3 linked regions of the Homo sapiens genome follow. The protein of the gene in region 1 interacts with the protein of each later gene in a pairwise test. Each region holds a gene or a part of one and is shown in the gene's direction. Other genes may lie near its edges.

Region 1 (7,109 bases):
CGAATTATTGGTTAAGTACATTTAGGAAGTGGAGTTGTGGCTTTTATTTGACATTAATGAGATATTTACTTGAGTATATAATTTTTACATCTTATTTCAGAATAAGAAGTAAAATACGGGTGTCACAAATCCAACTACAGTTAAAACTTGATAACCAAGCAAACTTGGTTTTCTTAATGCTTAATTTTAGAGACTACAGAATACTGTTTTTAATGTCACCATTTCAGGGTAATAGATTTGTCACTTGTATGAAGAAGGCTTACTAGTGAAACTGGCTTGGGGTCTTAATAATCTTAATTCTGAAACATCTTCTTGTTGCCTTTGAGATTTTTCTCCCAGTTATTTTGAGTTTGGAAAGGATCCCTAATTCTTATAAATTACTGTAGATTACATCAATCTGTGGATTTTATAGGTTGATTTCATGGTAAGAAAACTTCATTTTTGTAACCAGTGGAAGGATAATCTTAGTTTTAAAGTGCTCTATAACATTTTTAGGCATTCCTATTACAAAGATTCTATTATAATGCCCATTTACCTTTCCCATCGTTTTGGTTACGTTGTGCTTTTTAGTTTATCTGATATGCTCTAGAATTTGTTGAACATCTTTGTTAAATATCTTTTTCTTTTTTTTTTTTGAGACGAGTCTCACTCTATCGCCCAGGCTGGAGTGCAGTGGTACGATCTCGGCTCACTGCAACCTCTGCCTTGTGGGTTCAAGCGATTCTCCTTCCTCAGCCTCCTGAGTAACTGGGATTACAGGTGAGTGCCACCACCCCTGGCTAATTTTTGTTTTTAGTAGAGATGCGATTTCACCATGTTGTCCAGGCTGGTCTTGAAATTCCTTGACCTCAAATGATCCTCCCACCTGGGTCTTCCAAAGTGCTGGGATTACAGGAGTGAGCCGCCACCGCAGGCCATGTTAAATATCTTAAGTGCTACTTTTAAAAAGATAATTAGGCCGGGCATGGTGGCTCACCCCTGTAATCCCAGCACTTTGGGAGGCCGAGTCGGGTGGATCATTTGAGGTCAAGGAATTCCAAGACCAGCCTGGACAACATGGTGAAACCCCATCTCTACTAAAAATACAAAAAAATGAGCCAGGCATGGTGGTGCAGGCATGTAATCCCAGCTACTCAGGAGGCTGGGGCAGGAGAATGGCTTGAATCTGGGAGGCGGAGGTTACAGTGAGCTGAGATTGCACCACTGCACTCCAGCGTGGGCGACAGAGCAAGACTCCATCTCAAAAAAAGATAATTAAATATAAAGACATAGATATTAGAGGTTATGACCTGAGATGTCATTTATGGTATTGGAAGGTTTTGTGGTAAAAAGTGACTAATTTATGAAATGATTAAATACCACTTGGTACAAAAAGTTGATTTTTTTCCCCCCAGAAGAAAGTTTTTCAAAACCAGTGTAAGTTTATAGCGTGTTTATTTTAGTAAATTTAGAAATTCTTGAAATTTATATGTAATTTTATTTTTACTTTGGTTATAAAGATAGTAGGGAGAAGTATTTTGGTTATAAAGATAGTAGGGAGAAGTATTTAGCTATGTGAAACCGCTAAAAACTAGCTTTTCTTTACTCTGAACTTTTTTTCTCTTCAGTGAAGCTGAAGTACTTTTTAAAAAAGTTATGCTCTTAGGTTAATTTCAGAGGCTATGGTAACTTTAAAAAAAATTTAAAAAATTTTAAACATAATTTTATTTTCATTCTTCCAACACAGTATCATGTAAAAATAGTTTAAAATATGGTTGAATGAATGAGTCATCCAAAAAGTGATCAAATGTCAGCACTTGTTACTGAACGTGTATTTATGCTAAAAAAGTTAATGCCGAGAAAATAGAAGACAGTCTCAAGTTCAAGTAGTAAATTAGCTTTTAAATGGAATTTTAATATTTAAAATGCCCGTGGAGTTAGTTAACAAATTAGTACTAGCTATTGAATCAGTTAATATATGAAAGTACTCTTGGCCAGGCATGTGGCCCACACCTGTGATTCCAGCACTTTGGGAGGCCGAGGAGGGCAGATCACATGAGGTCAGGAGACTAGCCTGAGCATGAACCACCAGACCTGGCGCAAATCTTAATATTACTGCCTATATTTCAATTTTTGAGTAGTATATCTTTGAACTTTAGTTCCTCAACTACAAAACAGGTATTACTCTGAAGTGTTGTTTTGTGGTTCAAGTGAAATAATTTCTGTTAAAGAGCGCTGTGAACTGTTTGGAGGAATCCATCCACGTTGCTTGAATGCGTGCATCTTTTCTGTTGTAGAATGGTATTTTGGAGGGCAGGGACATTTTTGCTTTTTTAGTATCTTTGTAAGTACCTAACATAATATCTTGGGTGTGGTGAATACTCCATTAATTACTAGCATTAAATTGAGAATACCAACAGTAGTATGTATGTATGCATTTATGTATTTATTTTGAGACAGAGTCTTGCTCTGTCACGCAGGCTGGAGTGCAGTGGCGCGATCTCAGCTCACTGCAGCCTCTGCCTCCTGAGTAGCTGGGACCACAGGCACCTGGCCCAACAGTAGTATTTATTTAACGTCTTACTACTTGAGGTCTCTTGTCTATGAAAGGGGGACAATAATGGTTCCTATCCTGTAAGATTGCAATGTGAATTGTAGAGTATTTGGTACACGTTCATTAAGTGTTTACTGTGTGATGGGTATATTCTACAGATGTATATAGAATCCATGTTATGTGACAGATGCTTTATTTTTTTTGATATAGGGTCTCACTCTGTCACCCAGGCTGGAGTGCAGTGGTGCGATCTTGGCTCACGGCAGCCTCTGCCTCCCGGGTTCAAGCAATTCTCCTGCCTCAGCCTCCTGAGTATCTGGGATTACAGGCGCATGCCACCGTGCCCTGCTCGTTTTCTTTTTTTTTTTTTTTTTGTATTTTTAGTAGAGAGGGTTGCACCATGTTGGCCAGGCTGGTCTCAAACTCTTGACCTCAAATGATCCGCTTGCCTCGGCCTCCCAAAGTGCCGGGATTATGGGCATGAGCCACCGTGCCCGGCCTCATGCCAGGTACTCTTCTAAATGCTGGGGATACAGCAGGGTATAAAACAAAACCCTTACCTCATGAGTGGCAGAGAGAATCACTGCACAAATGAATTGATAATAGCTAGTAACGTCTGTTATTGTGAAGTGCTGTACGATCTGGAATGCCCAAAAGTACTGTATCAATCAGGTGTTAGATGTATGACAAGAGTCTGCAAATGAGTGTTGCAGAAATTTGCAAAAGGATATGGTAGACTAAAATATTTGATTACAGCATGTACATTTTAATCAGTTTTCTATGACTGTTCTGTGGTGGGCCTAAAAGCCTTCATATGAAACCTTTCATTTTAAATTGTTTTTAATATGTACGTGCAGCTAGTTATAAAAAAATATAACTAGCTTTCTTTTTTTTGGACGATAACTAGCTGAACGTACATATTAAAAACAATTAGAAAAGAAATGGAATGCTTCATGAATTTGCATGTCATCCTTGTGCAGGGGCCATGCTCATTTTCTCTGTATTGTTCCAAGTTTATCATATATGTTGCTGAAGCAAGCATGCCAGTTATCTATTGGTAAAAAGTTTTGGAATAAGTTTTCTAGTAATGGCAGTGGTCTAACCTATGATTAATTTATTTTTGCGATGAATAGTTTGTATTTGTGAAAGTAGTAATTATATTGGTCTTAAATACTAAGACCCATTGCGCCCCATTTAGTGATAAGAAACATGACGGTATCTCCTCAGATACTTTGTTTTTAAAGAGCAGGCTAAAGAGATTATTGTATTCTGTTTTTTCTGTAAATTGCGACATGGTGCATTCAAATTAGAACTGGAGGCAGGTATGGTTACTCACACCTGTCATCCCTGCACTTTGGAAGGCCAAGGTGGGAGGATCCCTTGAGCCTAGGGGTTCGAGACCAGCCAGGACAGTGTAACAAGATCCCATCTACAGGCGGGACACGGTAGCTCACGCCTGTAATCCCAGCACTTTTGGAGGCTGAAGCAGGCAGATCACAAGGTCAGGAGATCAAGACCATCCTGGCTAACACGGTGAAACCCCGTCTCTACTAAAAATACAGAAAAAAATTAGCTGGGCGTGGTGGCGGGCACCTGTAGTCCCAGCTACTTGGGAGACTGAGGCAGGAGAACGGCGTGAACCCAGGAGGCGGAGCTTGCAGTGAGCAGAGTTTGCGCCACTGCACTCCAGCCTGGGCGACAGAGCGAGACTCCGTTTCCAAAAAAAAAAAAAAAAAAAGATCTCATCTACAAAAAATGAAAAAATTAGCCAGATGTGGTGTCACATGCCTCAATTCCTAGCTACTTGAAAGGCTGAGGCAGGAGGATCACTTGGATCCAGGAGTCTGAGGCTGCAGTGAGCTGTGATTGTGCCACTGTAGTCAAACCTGGGTGACAGCAAGACTCTCACAAAAAACAAAAAAACAAAAAAACAAAAAAATTAGAGTTGGAACGTGTTGTATAGTTAGTGACTAAAGATTTTGTGTGGGAAGGGGGACAGATTTTAGGCTTGCGTAAATGATGAAGAGAGAATTCTAGAAAGCCTAACTGAAAACATGTAGGCAGGAATGAGCGTAGCATGTTCAGGAGACTTCCTGCCAACATCTAAGGATGCGCCACTGGACCTGGGAAGTAAGAATTAATGGTGCAAGTGAGGCCTTTCATGCCAACACAAGTGTGTACGTCTCTCAGTATAGGTTTGTGAATCAAATTCTTTTTATTCTCTTCACTTTCTTTCTGTGTAATTCCCTAGTTCACATTCAAGTCTTACGTTGAACAGGCTGGTTCCTTGTTAGACATATTGTCAGCATTCCGAGTTCTTTCTTGCCCTCACCCCAATATGGGTAATTGTTTACCATTTATCTCCACTGCTGGGTTGTGTGCTCCCTGAGAAGAAAAACCATGTCTATCTTGATTGGCACTTTATCTGTAGCACCTGGCTATGTAAACGTTATTTCTGAATACGTTTTCTTGAGGATTTAATTTGAACAATAGTTTGCATTGTTTTTCCAGACACAACCGTCACTAGAATAACTAAAGGAACATTGAGTAGTGAAAGAGCATGGACGTAATCTAACTTCTCAGAAGTTGCTTCCTTATCTGTAAAATAGGAGCAGTGTTAGGATTAAGTGAGATGACATGCAAAGGGGTTACGTATTTACTTCGTAGAGTCATTTATATATCCCCATTTCTCATGCAGAGATGGTGCAGTGGAAAGAATACTCCAGCTGAGGATAAGCGATCAGTATTGTAGTCTTGACTTTATTGCCGTCAGGAAATGTGGCAAATTGTTTATTTCTGTGAAGCTCAGATTGATTCTTTTTCTTAAAAATGAGGGTTTTTGACAAAACAGTATAAAGTAATTTGGAGCTCGAATGCGAGGGTGCTGCTGTAGAGTTGGCAAGTACTTTAAATACAGTTAAACAAATAGATAATGGATTATCTTCTTTAGACAAACTCGGAATATTGCCGTGTGTGGCTTTGTTATATCCAGGATCTCAAGGATATCTTAGGTAGGTTCTTTTGGGTTTAAAAATCACCATATTTCTTTTTAAAACATTTTTTTATTTTTGAAAATGGAGACTAGGTCTTGCTATGTTGCCGAGACTGGTTTTCAACTCTTGGGCTCCAGTGATTCTCTCTGCTTGACCTCCCAAAGTGCTGGGATTACAGGCGTGAGCCACTGTGCCTTGCCAGAAGTCATCATATTTCTACTTCATATTTATGATGTTGTATTGAAATATCCATTTGTGTTTATTTCCTCTAGGCTATAACATTTTAAAAGTAAAGATCAGGCCGGACATGGTGGCTCACATCCGTAGTAAAAATACAAAAATTAGGCGCATGCCTGTAATCCCAGCTACTTGGGAGGCTGAGGCAGGAGAATAGCTTGAACCCGGGAGGTGGAGGTTGCAGTGATCTGAGATCGTGCCATTGTGCTCCAGCCTGGGCAACAGAGCAAGACTCCATCTCAAAAAAAAAAAAAAGTAAAGATCAGGTCTCATATATACTTGCAGAACTTGCCTTCTGCACTCACTCAGTATGTCGTAGCCTGTATTCATTCTCAGTAATTGGTTGAATTCAACTTAATGTGGAAATACCTGATTGCATATTTCTTTCTCAGTTTCATTAGTGTGGCTGATTAAAGAAAAAGAGAACAGTTTTTTTTTGTTTTGTTTGTACTTCGAGACAGGGTCTTGCTCTGTCACTCAGGCTGGAGTGCAGTGGTACCGTCACAGCTCACTGCAGCCTCAAACTCCTGGACCCAAGTGACTGTCCTGCCTCAGCCTTCCAAATAGCTGGAGCTACAGGCATGCACTACCATGCCCAGCTGCTTTTTTCATTTTTTGTAGAGATGGGGTCTCCGTGTGTTGCCCAGGCTGGTCTCGAACCCCTGAGCTCAAGCAGTCCTCCCACCTTGGCCTCCCAAAGTGCAGGGATTACAGGTGTGAGCCACCACACCTGGCCATCATTACTTTTCATAAATATTTTTTAAAGTACAAAGAGTAGATGAATTGGCAATAGATTTTTTAGTGTTTTAAATTAATCTTGGAAATTGTTATATCAACATGTGTTTTGAGGTGTTCAGTCAAGAATGACAGTAGTCATTCTTGTCAGAAATGCATACTGAAATCATCTGATATTTTTCCTCAAAATTTCCTTAGGAAAGATCTTTTTATGATTTAATACTAATTAAACCTTCAGATGCAATTGCTTCTTTATTAAATGGGGGGTGTTCTTCATAGTGGATTTCTTTTTTTAAACATACCATCTTTGTGTATATACATTTCTCTGGAAATGTTTGTGAAAAGGTAAAGATAACTTCCTTAGTGTAATTGTGTTGAAGTGGAATGTTTCTAGTGTTTGTGAAGATATCAATTGCTGGCTGATATTTTAAGCTGGATGAAAAATGTGGGTGAAGTAATCTTAAAGGGTGATAGATTTGATATGAGAAATTTAAAGTAATGTGCTCAGTGCGTAGTGGTGATAAAAGAATGTAGCCTACTTGTTTTCCATAGACTATATTTCATCATTGTTGCATAAAGTCCCTTTTGGCCAATTTAGTGAATGCTGCTGG
Region 2 (7,308 bases), on another chromosome or scaffold:
CAGCTGAGGAGACAGGCTTTCTTACTTTAATGTCTCTCCTTCTGACACTGTCCAGAAGGGGGAATTTGTCCTGTAAAATAGACTTCCAGAGCTCTTTTGCCCCCTCTGCTCCCATGCACCCTCCCCTTCCAAGTCCTTTAGCAAGGCCTGGATGTTTAGGGAGAAAGTGGTCCAAGGCTGCTGACAAGAGGGACCAAAGGGGGTGCTGGGTTCCCAGGGAGCAGGGATGTTTAATTACTATGTCATGTGCAATGTTGTTTTAGGCCAACCCTTGCCCCAAGCCCAGTCTCTTCTCCCTCCCCACCATGTCCAGACCTCCCAAATGGTTCTTGTGCATCTGTTGGAGAAGTCAAGGGAGTAGGGAGAAGGGCCCCAAGGATGGGCCCAGGTTAGGTGAAGAGTAAGATGTGAGCTGAACTCCTCGAACTGAAGAGACCCACACTTGGTCACATTCTCTCACGCTGCCTTCAGGATCCCCAGCCCCCAACTCTTCTTCCTGAGGATGGAAATCCACTCCAGCCCCACTAGGACTGATGTGGGTGCCATACAGGCAGGAGCAGCCCACCAGGAAAGTGTAAGGAGGGAGCTGAACTCCCCAGAGTAGCTGGACCACAGAGACTTGGGTCAGAGCTGATTTCAACCCCAGAATTGTCTCTCGGGTTCACCCTACTCTTCTGAAGATGAAAATTTGTTTGGGGCCTTGGTAACCGATAGCGGTACAAACTCCAAGGCACTGTGGACTTGAGTCCATTCCTATCTGACCTCTTTTTGTCCCCCTCAAGCCTCAGGGGCCTCAAGCCCCTCCTTAGTAGCCCTTGGCTGACTGGGCCCTGAGCCCCAAGCATCCTTCTTTCCCAACAACCCTCCTTCCCCATCCTTCCCCCACCCTTACCTACACCCAAAGTGGAGCACACTGCAGTCAGATTCTCCAGGAGGGAGATCCAAGCCTCCTCCCAGGGGTGGAGTCCACTCTGGGCTTACTTTGAGGCCTGTTCTGTGGATTGGTGAGCCAAGCTGGCACTCCTTGCCCTGGTCTTACCCAGGCTCTCTGTCCCCCTCTCACTTCCTGTGGGGCCGGAATCTGTATTTATCCATCCCCCTTTCCCTTCTTTATAGAAGTCCCTGTCCTAAACTCCCTCCCTAGCCCAAGAGAGCCCCAGAACTGGGGAAGCCTGACCCATACAGAATGGGGAGGGCACTCTAGGCAGGAGAGACATTAATGAGCCTGGCTGCAGAGTGGCCCTGGAAAGGCAGGCCAGAGTGGCTGAGAGGCTGGGAGTAGGGGAGCCTGTTCTCTCAGCGATAGTGATGGGGGTGCCTTTCCGAGGGGGTGGGGTGGGAAGACCAAGGGGGTGGGGGGTAGATAGGGTACATTTAGGAGGGTTTTCCTCCATTTCTTTTTTCTAACTGCCTGGATTCACCATTGGATTTTGTAAATGGAAAAACTGAAATGAACAATGCTATACTGGATGTTTTCTCTTTCTGACTGTGTGTGTGTGTGTGCGTGCGTGCGTGCATGTGCCCTGTCTGACCACATGTGGAGAGACATGATTGAGTGATAGTGTGTGTCTGTGTGACTTTGTGTGGGGAGGCACTCCTGAAGAAAACTTGCCCGGTGCACACACGTAAAATGCCTGTATATGGGGACAGATACAGCACGTGCATGCATACACACACACACACACACACCACAGTTGAGAGGAGACAAACTAGAGTATGTGCCCGTGGTAGGAAGTCGAGTGGTCAAGAGATGGATCTTGGAAACTACATAGGTCGGTAGCAAGAGGGTAGACTCCCATCTCACAAGATGGGCCTCCCTTGGCCCAGGCCCTGAGCACGGGAGGGCTGGGGCCGCCAGGGAACTTGAAAACCTCATCTCCTCACAAAGCCTGTAGCCCCATCTCAACCCCGTCTCAGTCTCCTTCCCAAACTCAAACAAGGTGTTCCTAAAATTGGACCACCATGGAGAATGGGGACTGGGAATTGAGGATCAAATGTGAGGGAAACTGATGAGGTTAGGAAATGCCCCCCACAAAGTAATGGCTTCTGGAGGGACTGCTCAGTCTGGGATGGGAGCCCTTCCTAGGGGCCACTGTATGCAGCTGGGACTTTGGTCAGCTTTGACCAAATTTAGAGGGAGGGATGTCATGGGGAAAAAAAACCCAAGCCCAGGAGTCTACCCAGCCAGCCTGCTCCCTAGACAGTTAATTTACTATCTGGTTATTCTCTCAGGTGCACAGAATTGAGTTGACCATACTCCTCAGTTCTTGGCACACTATATCATCATTGGTCCATGTGAGGCCCTTTTATTTTTTTTTCTTCAGTTTTGTCCCCTTCATCACCCATTCCTGATCCCATCCTCCCCGCCCCCTACACAGGCACCCACTCTCGTGTATTTAACGTACGTCCTTCCAATCCACCGTTCATGTGTTTATTTACATATATGTGTATCTGTGAAAAATGTATGGTATTGCTGTGTGTTTTAATTTACATAAACAGTATTGTACTATAAATCTTGTTGTTTCTTTTTTCACTCAACATTCTGTCTTTGAGAGATCCAGCCATGTTGCCGTATATAGATCTAATTCATTCTAGTGGTCCATCTAAAACATATATCACATTTTTCTTATCCACTCCCCTGATGATGGATCCCTAGGTCTCCTCTCTGCTCCGCGACAAGGCTGCAATGGGCAGTTACCTACACCTCTCTTGAGGGATGCCTAATTTAGGGGAGAGAAAACTGAAGCTCAGAGAGGGGCAGTGATTTGGTTAAGGTTACAAAATGAGGGGCACACCCATGATGTGAATCCCAGCACCAAAGCCAGCCCTCCACCACCATGCCTCACAAAAGACCATCCATCTCTGGTTTAAAAAGAAAAATCTTAAAATACAGCATACACTGGGGAAAGGGAGAGGAAAGGATGGAAAGGGGGAGAAATGAAGAGACAGAAAGTGCTAGAAAATTCTAGCAGATGAGCTGAATCACAATCATTTTTATGACGCAGAGGAAGTTACTTTTTTGTGTGTGTGATTATTATTTGTAGAGCCATTTTGCGGAGATGGAAAACGCCACGTCAAAACCTGGCCCCCAAACCAAACACCCTGGGTGCCTAAATTGCAGGCGCAGGCGGTAGGGCAGCCCGAGCCCCCGAGGAGCTACAGCAGAGTTCACCCAGGGGGCAAACGTGGGGGGTGGGGGAAGGGGCAGAAGTGGAAGGTAGGAAAAGAGGCAGAAGCGGGGGGGCGGGGGGCAGGGGTTGTGTGAGGGAAGGGGCAGAAGTTGGGGGATAGGGGAAGGGCAGAAGCGGAGGGCGGGAGGGTGAGGGAAGGGGCAGAAGTGGGGTTGGGGGGTGAAGGAAGGGGCAGAAGTTGGGGGATAGGGGAAGGGGCAGAAGTGGGGGTGAGGGAAGAGACAGTTGGGGGATGGGGGTCAGAAGCAGGGAATGCGGGAAGGGGCAGAAGGGGGGGTGAGGGAAGGGGCAGAAGCGGGGGAGGAAGGGGCAGAAGCGGGGGGTGAAGGGGCAGAAGCGGGGGTGGGGTGGGGGAAGGGGCCGAAGCGGGGGATGGGGGAAGGGGCAGAAACGGGGGGTGGGGGAAGGGACAGAAACGGGGAGTGGAGGAAGGGGCAGAAGCGGGGATGGAAAAAGGGGCAGCAGTGGGGGATGGGAGAAGGGGCAGAAGCGGGGGTGGGAGAAGGGGCAGGAGCTGGGATGGGGGAAGGGGCAGGACCCGGGATGGGGGAAGGGGCAGAAGCGGGGGTGGGGGAAGGAGCTGAAGGAAATGGGGGAAGGGGCAGATTTTAAAAGTGCGTAGTTGCTGAGGGGAGGGGGGCGGGGGGAACGATAACGAGGCTCTTCCAATTTCATGTGAGCACATCCTGCTCAGCGCCTGCGTTTGTTTTTCGTCTCGTTTTTTGGTCTTCAGAACCACTGGTACTTTTCCCATTGGATAAAACGCTGAGAGGGTGAGGGAGAGGGGCTTCTTCCCCAGCTTTCCTCGCAGCCAATCGCCCTGCAGTTTCCCTCCCGTCGCTGAGGGAGTCAGCCCGTTGATTGGCGGGCCCGAGGGGAGCCAATCGGAAACTGATGATGTGTGGTGTTGGCAAGCGGATTGCGTGAGAGCGGGCAGGGGTCGCGGGAGCGCGATCGCCGCCGCGGCGGCCGGCAGCCAATGGCCAGGCCGAGCGGACCCCTGCGTCAGGAGTGGGCGGGGCTTCGGCGATTGGCGCGGAGGGAGTAGAGCGGGCGCTGTGGGAGGGAACGCCAGAGCGAGGTGGTGAGGAGAGCTGGTTGCGTGAGTCTCCTCAGCTCTGCTTACCGGTGCGACTAGCGGCAGCGACGCGGCTAAAAGCGAAGGGGCGAGTGCGAGTCCCCTGAGCTGTACGAACGCGGTCGCCATGGACCGCCCAGATGAGGGGCCTCCGGCCAAGACCCGCCGCCTGAGCAGCTCCGAGTCTCCACAGCGCGACCCGCCCCCGCCGCCGCCGCCGCCGCCGCTCCTCCGACTGCCGCTGCCTCCACCCCAGCAGCGCCCGAGGCTCCAGGAGGAAACGGAGGCGGCACAGGTGCTGGCCGATATGAGGGGGGTGGGACTGGGCCCCGCGCTGCCCCCGCCGCCTCCCTATGTCATTCTCGAGGAGGGGGGGATCCGCGCATACTTCACGCTCGGTGCTGAGTGTCCCGGCTGGGATTCTACCATCGAGTCGGGGTATGGGGAGGCGCCCCCGCCCACGGAGAGCCTGGAAGCACTCCCCACTCCTGAGGCCTCGGGGGGGAGCCTGGAAATCGATTTTCAGGTTGTACAGTCGAGCAGTTTTGGTGGAGAGGGGGCCCTAGAAACCTGTAGCGCAGTGGGGTGGGCGCCCCAGAGGTTAGTTGACCCGAAGAGCAAGGAAGAGGCGATCATCATAGTGGAGGATGAGGATGAGGATGAGCGGGAGAGTATGAGGAGCAGCAGGAGGCGGCGGCGGCGGCGGAGGAGGAAGCAGAGGAAGGTGAAGAGGGAAAGCAGAGAGAGAAATGCCGAGAGGATGGAGAGCATCCTGCAGGCACTGGAGGATATTCAGCTGGATCTGGAGGCAGTGAACATCAAGGCAGGCAAAGCCTTCCTGCGTCTCAAGCGCAAGTTCATCCAGATGCGAAGACCCTTCCTGGAGCGCAGAGACCTCATCATCCAGCATATCCCAGGCTTCTGGGTCAAAGCAGTATCCTTCTAATCGATACTCCGTAGGTCAGAAGCCCGTGACAGGAAAGGGGAAGGTGGGGGAGGGACAGAAAAGGTAAAGCGGGTGGAGGAGAGCCAGAGGTGGGCATGATCCCCCTATCGGAAGACGGACTAGACTGGGTGGAAGAGGGATGGAAGGAGGAGGGCAAAACAGCAGAGAAGCTGGACTGGAGATGATGAAGGGTGGTGGAGGGGGGGCGGACATAAAAACTGGACCACAGATGGGAAAGGGGGAAGAGGAGGAACATAGCATTAAAAAAAGGATCACAGATGATAAAAAGGGGGAGGGTAGTAAAGGGGCACACAGCAAAAAAATTGGACCAGAGATGGTGAAAGGAGGAGGGGAGGGGCACGTAGAAGATGAACTGACTCAGAGACCTTGAAGAGGGAGGGGAATGGCACACAGCAGAGAAACTGCCCAGAAAGGGTGCTTGAGCCATACAAGGCTCTGTAAACCTAGATTTTTGCTTAAGATACTAGGAGACCCCAATCCTGGCTGGAGTGCCTTGCATTGGAGGGAGGGGGGCTGGAGCCCCTGAAAGATCAAGAGAGGGAGTGTCTAGGTATAGAGAAAAAGGAGTTAAATGAAGGAAAGGGGAGAGTAGACACATACACATACATGTAACATGTTAGGAACATGAGTCGAACATCCTAATAGAATTATGTGGATACAGACCCTTAGCCCTCATATGAAACAGCACATGGTAAGAGGCCCTTAGCACCCAGGCATACAATATCATTTAGACATAGGACCTCAGCTCCTAGACACAGTATTATGTGACCACAGGTCCTCAGCATGTAGACACATGGCATAACTTGACCACAAGCCATCAGAGCCATTCACACATCATGTGGACATGGACCTTCAACACCCATACATACAATAACGTGACCACAGGCCCTCAGCAATCAGTTACAGCATCACTTGGACATGGCCCTTAAGCCCCCAGACGTGCATTTTGTGAACACAAGCTTTCAGCACCCAGTGACATATACCACATGCACATGGATTGTCGACACCCTGTAGGGCCACCTAACATAGAGGTTTATCATGGGAATAAGTATGGGTTATGTCCCATGACTCACTTGCTTTATACACACCACATAAGCACAGAAGGAATCCTCATGCTCCAGCCTCTCTTACTGTGCCCTTCCTGGCCTTCCCTCCCTCCCTTTCACGGAATAGTCAATCCTTGACCTAAACTGCTCCACTCATCAGTTCCTCAACCACCCCAGAATTTCAATTTTGATCAACCGACGTGATGAAGACATTTTCCGCTACTTGACCAATCTGCAGGTCAGGCCAGAGAGACATTTTTTAGTAGGATCGGGCACGAATCTGGTTCTTGGAGGTGACGGGAGGTGGGTGGGAAGGGCCGTGGTGTGTTGGGGGGGGGACAGATTCCACCATCACCCCCACCTGGAGCAGGTACAGGATCTCAGACATATCTCCATGGGCTACAAAATGAAGCTGTACTTCCAGACTAACCCCTACTTCACAAACATGGTGATTGTCAAGGAGTTCCAGCGCAACCGCTCAGGTAAGTGGCAGTACCAGAGTAAATCCATGTTCCCCCCCTCAATCTGTCCTTGTTTTGTCCCATCTCCATAGCCTTCTCTCTCCCTAGGCCGGCTGGTGTCTCACTCAACCCCAATCCGCTGGCACCGGGGCCAGGAACCCCAGGCCCGTCGTCACGGGAACCAGGATGCGAGCCACAGCTTTTTCAGCTGGTTCTCAAACCATAGCCTCCCAGAGGCTGACAGGATTGCTGAGGTGGGGCCCTTCCTGGCATCACCAGAGAAGGCCTTGCTAGGCTTGTTCCTGGGTGCGTGGGGAATTAAGAGGAGGATCTGGAGCTTGTACTAATGGCTGTCTTATTCCTTCTCCCCTTTTTCAACAGATTATCAAGAATGATCTGTGGGTTAACCCTCTACGCTACTACCTGAGAGAAAGGGGCTCCAGGATAAAGAGAAAGAAGCAAGAAATGAAGAAACGGTAATGGGAGTTTGGTCGCTGAGAGGTGGTTTGTTGGGGATGGGGAAAAGACTAGTGTAACACAGGATTTATGGAGCCAAAAAGGGACC
Region 3 (7,109 bases), on another chromosome or scaffold:
ACAGCAGATCCTTCATTGCAAGTCATTTCAGACCTGATTGGAATCCACCCAGATGTCCCTCAGTTGAGAACTGGTTAAATAAATTAATGGCACATCTGTACAATGGAATCTTATGGAGCCATATAACTACTTTTTGAAGGCAGCTTTATATGAATTAAATTTATATGAGGTGATATGGAATTCATAAGTAAAAAAGGTACATAACAGTATCAAGGGCATATTTATGTAGGGGAACACACACACATACACATGTATATGCTTATCTAAGCATAGAAATCTCTGAAAAGCTGTGTTAGGAACTGGGAAGAATAGCTCTGTGGAGGGGAACTGAGTGACTGGGAGTACAGGGGTAAGGAGTTAACTACACAGCCTAATGTGTCTTTCTAAATTTCATACTATGTACTTGTATTATATATTTGAAAAATAAAGTGTAATAGGAAGGGGGAGACAGACCAAAAGAAATCAATCTGCCTTGTAAGATTAAAAAGAAAGAAAGAAAAGGAAGAAAAACTTAGGTTTATACAGTCCAGACCTGCTTTTGAGAAGCAGGTAGAAAATAAGTTGTCAGTGATTTTTATCAAGTAATTCTTTTATTTCATAATTTTTTTTTCTGTCTAGGAAAGATAGCTCTTTAGGGTAAATGTAAATAGTGTGATCCCTTTACATATATTCTGAGAAGAAAATGCAAAATTAAGAAAAGTCACAAAATGAAAAACTACTTTTTCTTTTTTCTTCTGTAAATTTAAGCATTTAGAAAACAAAAATGTTTGTATATTCTATGACTCTATTCCTGGGCGTTGGAGCATTTCTCTTTGTATACTTTGAGTGAAGTCCTTTTGTTGTTGTTGTTGAGACAGAGTCTAGCTCTGCCACCAGGCTGGAGTGCAGTGGCGCAATCTTGGCTCACTGCAACTTCTGCCTTTCGGGTTCAAGCAATTCTCCTGCCTCAGCCTCAGGAGTAGCTGGGATTACAGGCACGTGCCGCCACGCCCAGCTGATTTTTGTGTTTTTAGTAGAGATGGGGTTTCACCATGTTGGCCAGGCTGGTCTTGAACTCCTGACCTCGTGATCCACCCACCTCGGCTTTCCAAAGTGCTGGGATTATAGGCATGAGCCACCGCACCCAGCGGAAGTTCTTTTTTTCAACCTCTTCAGTCTGGATCCAGTTGTATATGGCTTTTGGTTTTTTGTAAGTTTCTCTTTAAGTGGACTCATCAAGAAAAATAATAGAATGGATATTTAGGTTAATTTTACTGATAACCCGATTGATATAGTGTAGTTCTCTGATAACAGACTCATCATCAGAATTTACCAGCATAAATGAAAGCCTGCCAAGGCATATTAATAAAATAGGCTGATGGAAACTAATCAAATACATTTTATCTTGTTTCTTATGAAAACACTTATAAGAAAATACCTATTTTTTAAAAAAAAGTGAGTGCTAAATTCAGGATGGTTGACATCAAAAGTCCCTTTATTTAATCAAATTAAGTTCACAGTCTTTTTCCCTTGTCTAATTTAAACATTACTATAGCAGACAGGGTTTGCTGAGTTCCTCTTGGCATGTGGTGCATATTCTGCATGCTTCTAAACAATTAAATAAAATTTGCCAAGAGGGTTATGCAGCAAATACATGAGATAAATGTCATCAGAAGAAACATCCAGTCCTTCACTTGCAGAGTGTTAGATCTCAGGGAAACGTGTGTGACATGGGGGAAGATGTGAAATTACTTTTGGAGAGGTTAGTTCCTATGGATGGCGTAGTAATGATGTGCTTATAGTCCCCTCACCCAGAGCTAACCCTGATCAGCAAGGACATTATGATATATGTAAAGAGAACACTTACCAAATTTTTATATGTCTTAACAAGTTATGAAAAGAGTTTTGGGTTTTTTTTTTCCTCATGGGTTTAGATTTGCTAGGTGAAGGTGCAAAATTTTGTTTTAATGGAAACTTAGATGGGGGGAAAAAAGATTTCTGTAAGGAAATAGACAACACACTTTTCCTGTTAGGACCTTAGCCAACCCAGAATTCCTGTATTTTACTTCAGAGGAGTTTAAAGGCTTAAATACATTGTTCCTGCATTCTAGTGTCTTTGTGTTTTTCTGTTAGAGTCAGTAATTTTGAACTCGCTCTTGCTTTTCATCCATTTCAACCAAAGCAAGATGAACTAAGGTTTCCAGAACAAATCTGTTATTAATAGAGTGTTTCCAGAGTACTTTTTTGTGCTGTTTTTAACTACTGCTACATTGAAAAAGAAAAAGGAGCCAGAAAAAAATCTGAAAAGTAATGTAACATTATGTTTTAAAGTAGGTATTTTGATGAATTTAAGATTATTCATTTTTCACCTTCTGTGTGTAAACTGTCTTGATTTCTTTTTTTTCCCCCACCCCGAGATGGAGTATCACTCTGTCGCCCAGGCTGGAGTGCAGTGGCACGATCTTGGCTCACTGCAACCTCTGCCTCCTGGGTTCAAGCGATTCTCCTGCCTCGGCCTCCTGAGTAGCTGGGATTACAGGCGTGTGCCACCACACCCAGCAAATTTTTGTATTTTTAGTACAGACAGGGTTTCACCATGTTGGTCAGGCTGGTCTCAAACTCCTGACCTCAGGTGTTCCGCCCGCCTCAGCCTCCTAAAGTGCTGGGATTACAGGCATGAGCCACCGCGCCCGGCCTTGATTTCTTTCAAAATAACCAGGCCACTACTTACTTTTCTGTCTTCTTTTTCTCCTTTTTTCTTCTCCCCTCTTCCTTTTCCTTCCTGCCCAGTTTTATTTCATCTGAATTTCCTTCAGTTCTTGAGACTGTCTTGACAATACTGAATATTACAAAGAAGCATAATATTAATAATAAACCCCAATACCAAGAAAGAACCATTATTATTAGTTGGCTTATTTCCTTCAACCTCTTGGTTAGGATTCTTTCTGTTCTGTGTTCTATTTGTACCCATTTACCACTCTGCTTACTAAGGAGCATGCCGCAATTATGGATGTGGCCTACTACCTGGAATTCACTGACCTATTGCCCACCCTCCATCCTGAAGCTCTTTCTTTCTTTACAAGGGTCAGCCCCTGGACAAGAGGTTGTATTCCCTTACTGAGTCTTATTTCTACCTTTATCTTGATCAGCCATGATAACCGGTTGGCTCTGTTTTAGTCCTTTTCACCCTTGCTATAGAATAACATTTATATAATTTTAATTAGGTAGATTCCAGAGCTCTTGCTGTGCTGTAATCCCTACTTGTTTTCAGAAAAGCACTATAAGACTGTGAAACCCTCCAGCCCCCAAATTCCTGCTTATGTCTAAACTTAGTTAACTTTCAATTAGGCCCAGACTGAATTCTCAGTTTATTTTGGCAGAATGAAACCCTTTTAAATTGTTTAAAGAAGGGTTTCAGTTTAGAATTTCATGTTGGGTAGAGCAGAAATGTTTTTAAACCAGGGGTTGGCAAACTTCATATAAAGGGCCAGACAGTAAATATTTTAGGTTTTGCAGGTTATATGATCTCTATCATAGCTACTCAGCTCTTCTGCTCCAGTGCATTCATAGCCATAGACAATCTGTAAATGAATGAGCATGAGCATGTTTCAATAAAACTTTATTTACAAAAATAGGCAGTGGGTATAATTTGCCAACTCTGTTTTAGGGTGGGCTGTAAATCTCTAAAGCATTATATGATGACAAACTTACTTGTTTAAGCAGAAATGTTAAGTAGTTAAATATTTACTTTCCATCACATGCTATAAGAAATCACATACATATTAAAGGCTGAAACACAAAATGAAAGATATAAAGATACTCAGTGATATTCAAGCCCATTGGCCATAATACAAAAGACTGACAAATTTGACTGTATTAAAATTAAGATCACAAAGCACACTATAAAAAACAAATGACAGACCAGAAAAAAATTGCATTCTGTATGACTAGCAATTGCTATGATTTCTCTGCACCCATAAGAAGAATAACCCCCTAAAAAAGGAACAACAGATAGAAATTCACAAGAAAAGATATAAATGGTCAATAAACAGGAAAAGATGCTCATTCTTATTAGTAGTGAAGTCTCTATATTAAAGGGAAATTTTTTGCTGCCAAATTTATACATTTGAATAATTAATAATAGTGTATTGGGGGATAAAGGGAAATAAACAACTGAGGATGATTGTGATAATTTTTATTAGTTATCTATTCTTATACAATAAATTATCCACAATTTAGCAGCTTAACACAACCAGCATTTATTATCTCATAGTTTTCATAGATCAGGAATCCAGGAATGGCTTAGCTGGTTGTTTCTGGCTCAGAGTTCTGTAGAGGTTGCTGTCCAGCTGTCAGCCTGGGCTGCAGTCATTGGGACTGGATGGTCCACTTGGAAACTCACTCATGTGGATGTGGACAGGTCCCAGGTCCTCACTGCCTGTTGGTCAGAGACATCAGTTCCTCACAACATGGGCCTCACCATCCACTGCCTGAGTGTCCTCACACGGCAGCTAGTTTTCCCTTGAGTGAATAAGAGAGAAAGCATCCAAGACAGATGTCATAGTGTCTTCTGTATTCTGATCCTTGAAGTGACATACCATCACTGCCACATGCTGTTGGTCGCACAGCCTAATCATGGTGCAGTGTGGGAAGGGACTATACGGAGGTGTGCAGACCAGGAGGCAGGGATCCTTAGGGACCTTGGAGGTTGATGTCCACATTCCTGTGCTGGGACTGAATGTCTGAGGCCTTGTTTCTGTCTATCACCTGGTTTCTGCACTTCTCCATGTGGCATTTGCTGTGGCTACAGTGTCCAAGATGGCATTTTCTCTCAAATGCTGGCACCTGGGTGGAGTTGGCAGAAGACCCTGGGGACTGTCAGAGCATCTTTCACTCCATGTAGCCTCTCCACATGGCTATCCTGGGCTTCCTTACAACATCATAGTCTCAGGTTAGTCAGACTTCTTATATGGCCTCTGGTTTCCCCCAGAGCCAGCATTTTAGGAGACCTAGGCAGAAATTTCAAAGCATCTTATAACCTAGCCTTGAATTGTTTAGATTTTCTTGCTCAACAACCTGTCACAGGACTGGCCCAGATTCAAGGGCATGATTAGCCAGAGGTATGACTTACTGTGAGGAGCCGTCTTTGAAACTTGTCCCAGGAAACCATGATTGTGAAAGATGATGCTGACGTGTTCTAAAAGTAGTAGCAGTGCAAGGAATAAAAATTGATCTGATACTGGAAATATTTTGAAGATAAAATGAACTTGCCTATGAATTAGTTATGTATAGGTGGGATAATTAGAGAAGTGAAAGATTAATTTGAGAATTTTGAGCTGAGTGGTTTGAAGAGTGGGTATCTATTTACTGAGATGGGAAAGACTGCAGGACAATAGGTTTGAAAAGCAAAATCAGGATTGATTAACATTTTGGACATCTGTGTAAGAGAATACATCTAAAGATGTAGCTATTAAGAAGGGGATCTACAATAGATCTGTAAGTCTTGAAGTAGAAATGCTATCCATGGTATTATTTGCAAGGTACAATAAAGAGAGTATTAATTCTATTAGGAAGAAATAAATATTAATATCATTAACATAGAATTAACATATTTATTAATATTGCATAAACCTACATGTTCTAACATGTCTTTCTACACCTGTGTTAAGCATTTGAATTAAACTACAGGCAGAGAGAATTTTTTGAAGGTTTTTGATTAGAAGACCGATATGATCATAATTATGTTTTGGGAAGATGAATTTAACAGTGTAAGGAGTGAAAGAAGAGTGGGGTAGCCAGGGACTGAACTCTATGAAAGCATACCAAGTTACATTGAAAGTCTATGAAATAAGTTCATGGAGGTCACAGACAATGTTGCTTTCCTGGTTTTATTCTTAGCTTCTAGCCTAGAGCAAGCCACTTGAAAGGGATTTGTTAAATAGTGAATGAATGAATAAATGCATCATTGGCAGTTCAAGCTATTTGAGAAAAGAGTAATCTGAATTAGTAAAATGTCTCAATTATAGATATTTTTCATTGAAATTTTATTATGTTCAGGAGGTAACAGAATCTAGTATAGCATCAACAGGTAGACCTATGGAGACCTGATTTAGTTAGTAGACAAAAAGCATATCAAATATCATCTTATTTTCTTTCATGCTGTATTTCACTCTTTAAAAAAGAAAAGAGTTTACAAGAATTAGGGTTATTTTAAGTTTGTCTCCTACCTGCATAAATTCCTTAAGCTTATAACTTATTTGAATGGTTAGTAAAAGATTCTGAACATCTGAGGTATATTGTTCAAAAAGAGTATAACTATCAAGCAGGAATTTCAAAAGAAATTTTTCAGAGAAAGATACATTGATTAAGTTGTCACTAAGCCAAAGACCATACTTCCCTAGTCCCATAGGAAGTAGATGTTATATTGTTTTAAATAAACTGCAAGATATTTGCTAAAAGTGTCTTGTTTATTTCAGGCGCTACACTAAGTATGAGACCAGCCCCCATTCCAATAGAGGACCCTGAATGGAGACAAACGCCTCCCCCAGTCTCTGCCACATCTGGTACTTTCCGACTGCGACGAGGGAGTCGATTTACCTGGAGAAAGGAGTGCCTGGCTGTTATGGAAAGGTATGTGTCTCCTTTTTCTACGAATGATCTCCCAAACTTAGGGAAGACATCAACTCTGGATAGACTGGGACAGTTTTCATTTCAAACAAGTAACTTGGTATCTTGGTTCTATCTCTAAAAGTACTTTAGAATATCATAAATGCTGTATTATAGAAATAAGGTCATCTTAGCATTGAGAATTCATAAAGCTGGAGTTAGCATCTGTCAATTTATTTTACTTATAATAGTGTCCCCAGTAATTTAAGAAATGTTGGAATAAATATTTTTTGAATTCAGATCTTTGTATTATATTTTGGAAAAACTCTTTGAAGTCTTCTTTTCATCAAAAATAATGAATAATTGTATAGGAGACTACTGAGATTTAACTTTCCTTTAATAAGGAGTATGGTCTAAGTAAGCTTTGTCCCAAAGGTTAAAAATACTTATTTTTGACTTTGTTTTAGTAATTTATCCTCTCATTCTGTCACCAGTACCTGATCCATAGTAGGCACTCAGTGGTT

What was found.
Region 2: the proteins of AEBP2 (region 1) and TSPYL2 interact in binary tests that used the Homo sapiens proteins (3 or more experiments, as listed by UniProt).
Region 3: the proteins of AEBP2 (region 1) and HMBOX1 interact in binary tests that used the Homo sapiens proteins (3 or more experiments, as listed by UniProt).

The regions. Positions count from the first base shown.
Region 1 is NC_000012.12:19,442,481-19,449,589, forward strand, and holds part of AEBP2 (zinc finger protein AEBP2), read left to right. Parts: intron 1-643; exon of another isoform or gene 644-759; intron 760-7,109. UniProt on the Homo sapiens protein: Acts as an accessory subunit for the core Polycomb repressive complex 2 (PRC2), which mediates histone H3K27 (H3K27me3) trimethylation on chromatin leading to transcriptional repression of the affected target gene.
Region 2 is NC_000023.11:53,078,103-53,085,410, forward strand, and holds the start of TSPYL2 (testis-specific Y-encoded-like protein 2), read left to right. Parts: upstream 1-4,264; 5' UTR 4,265-4,396; coding exon 4,397-5,203; intron 5,204-6,442; coding exon 6,443-6,520; coding exon of another isoform or gene 6,521-6,652; coding exon 6,653-6,764; intron 6,765-6,851; coding exon 6,852-6,997; intron 6,998-7,124; coding exon 7,125-7,219; intron 7,220-7,308. UniProt on the Homo sapiens protein: Part of the CASK/TBR1/TSPYL2 transcriptional complex which modulates gene expression in response to neuronal synaptic activity, probably by facilitating nucleosome assembly. May inhibit cell proliferation by inducing p53-dependent CDKN1A expression.
Region 3 is NC_000008.11:29,012,305-29,019,413, forward strand, and holds part of HMBOX1 (homeobox-containing protein 1), read left to right. Parts: intron 1-2,730; exon of another isoform or gene 2,731-2,818; intron 2,819-6,455; coding exon 6,456-6,609; exon of another isoform or gene 6,610-7,109. UniProt on the Homo sapiens protein: Binds directly to 5'-TTAGGG-3' repeats in telomeric DNA. Associates with the telomerase complex at sites of active telomere processing and positively regulates telomere elongation.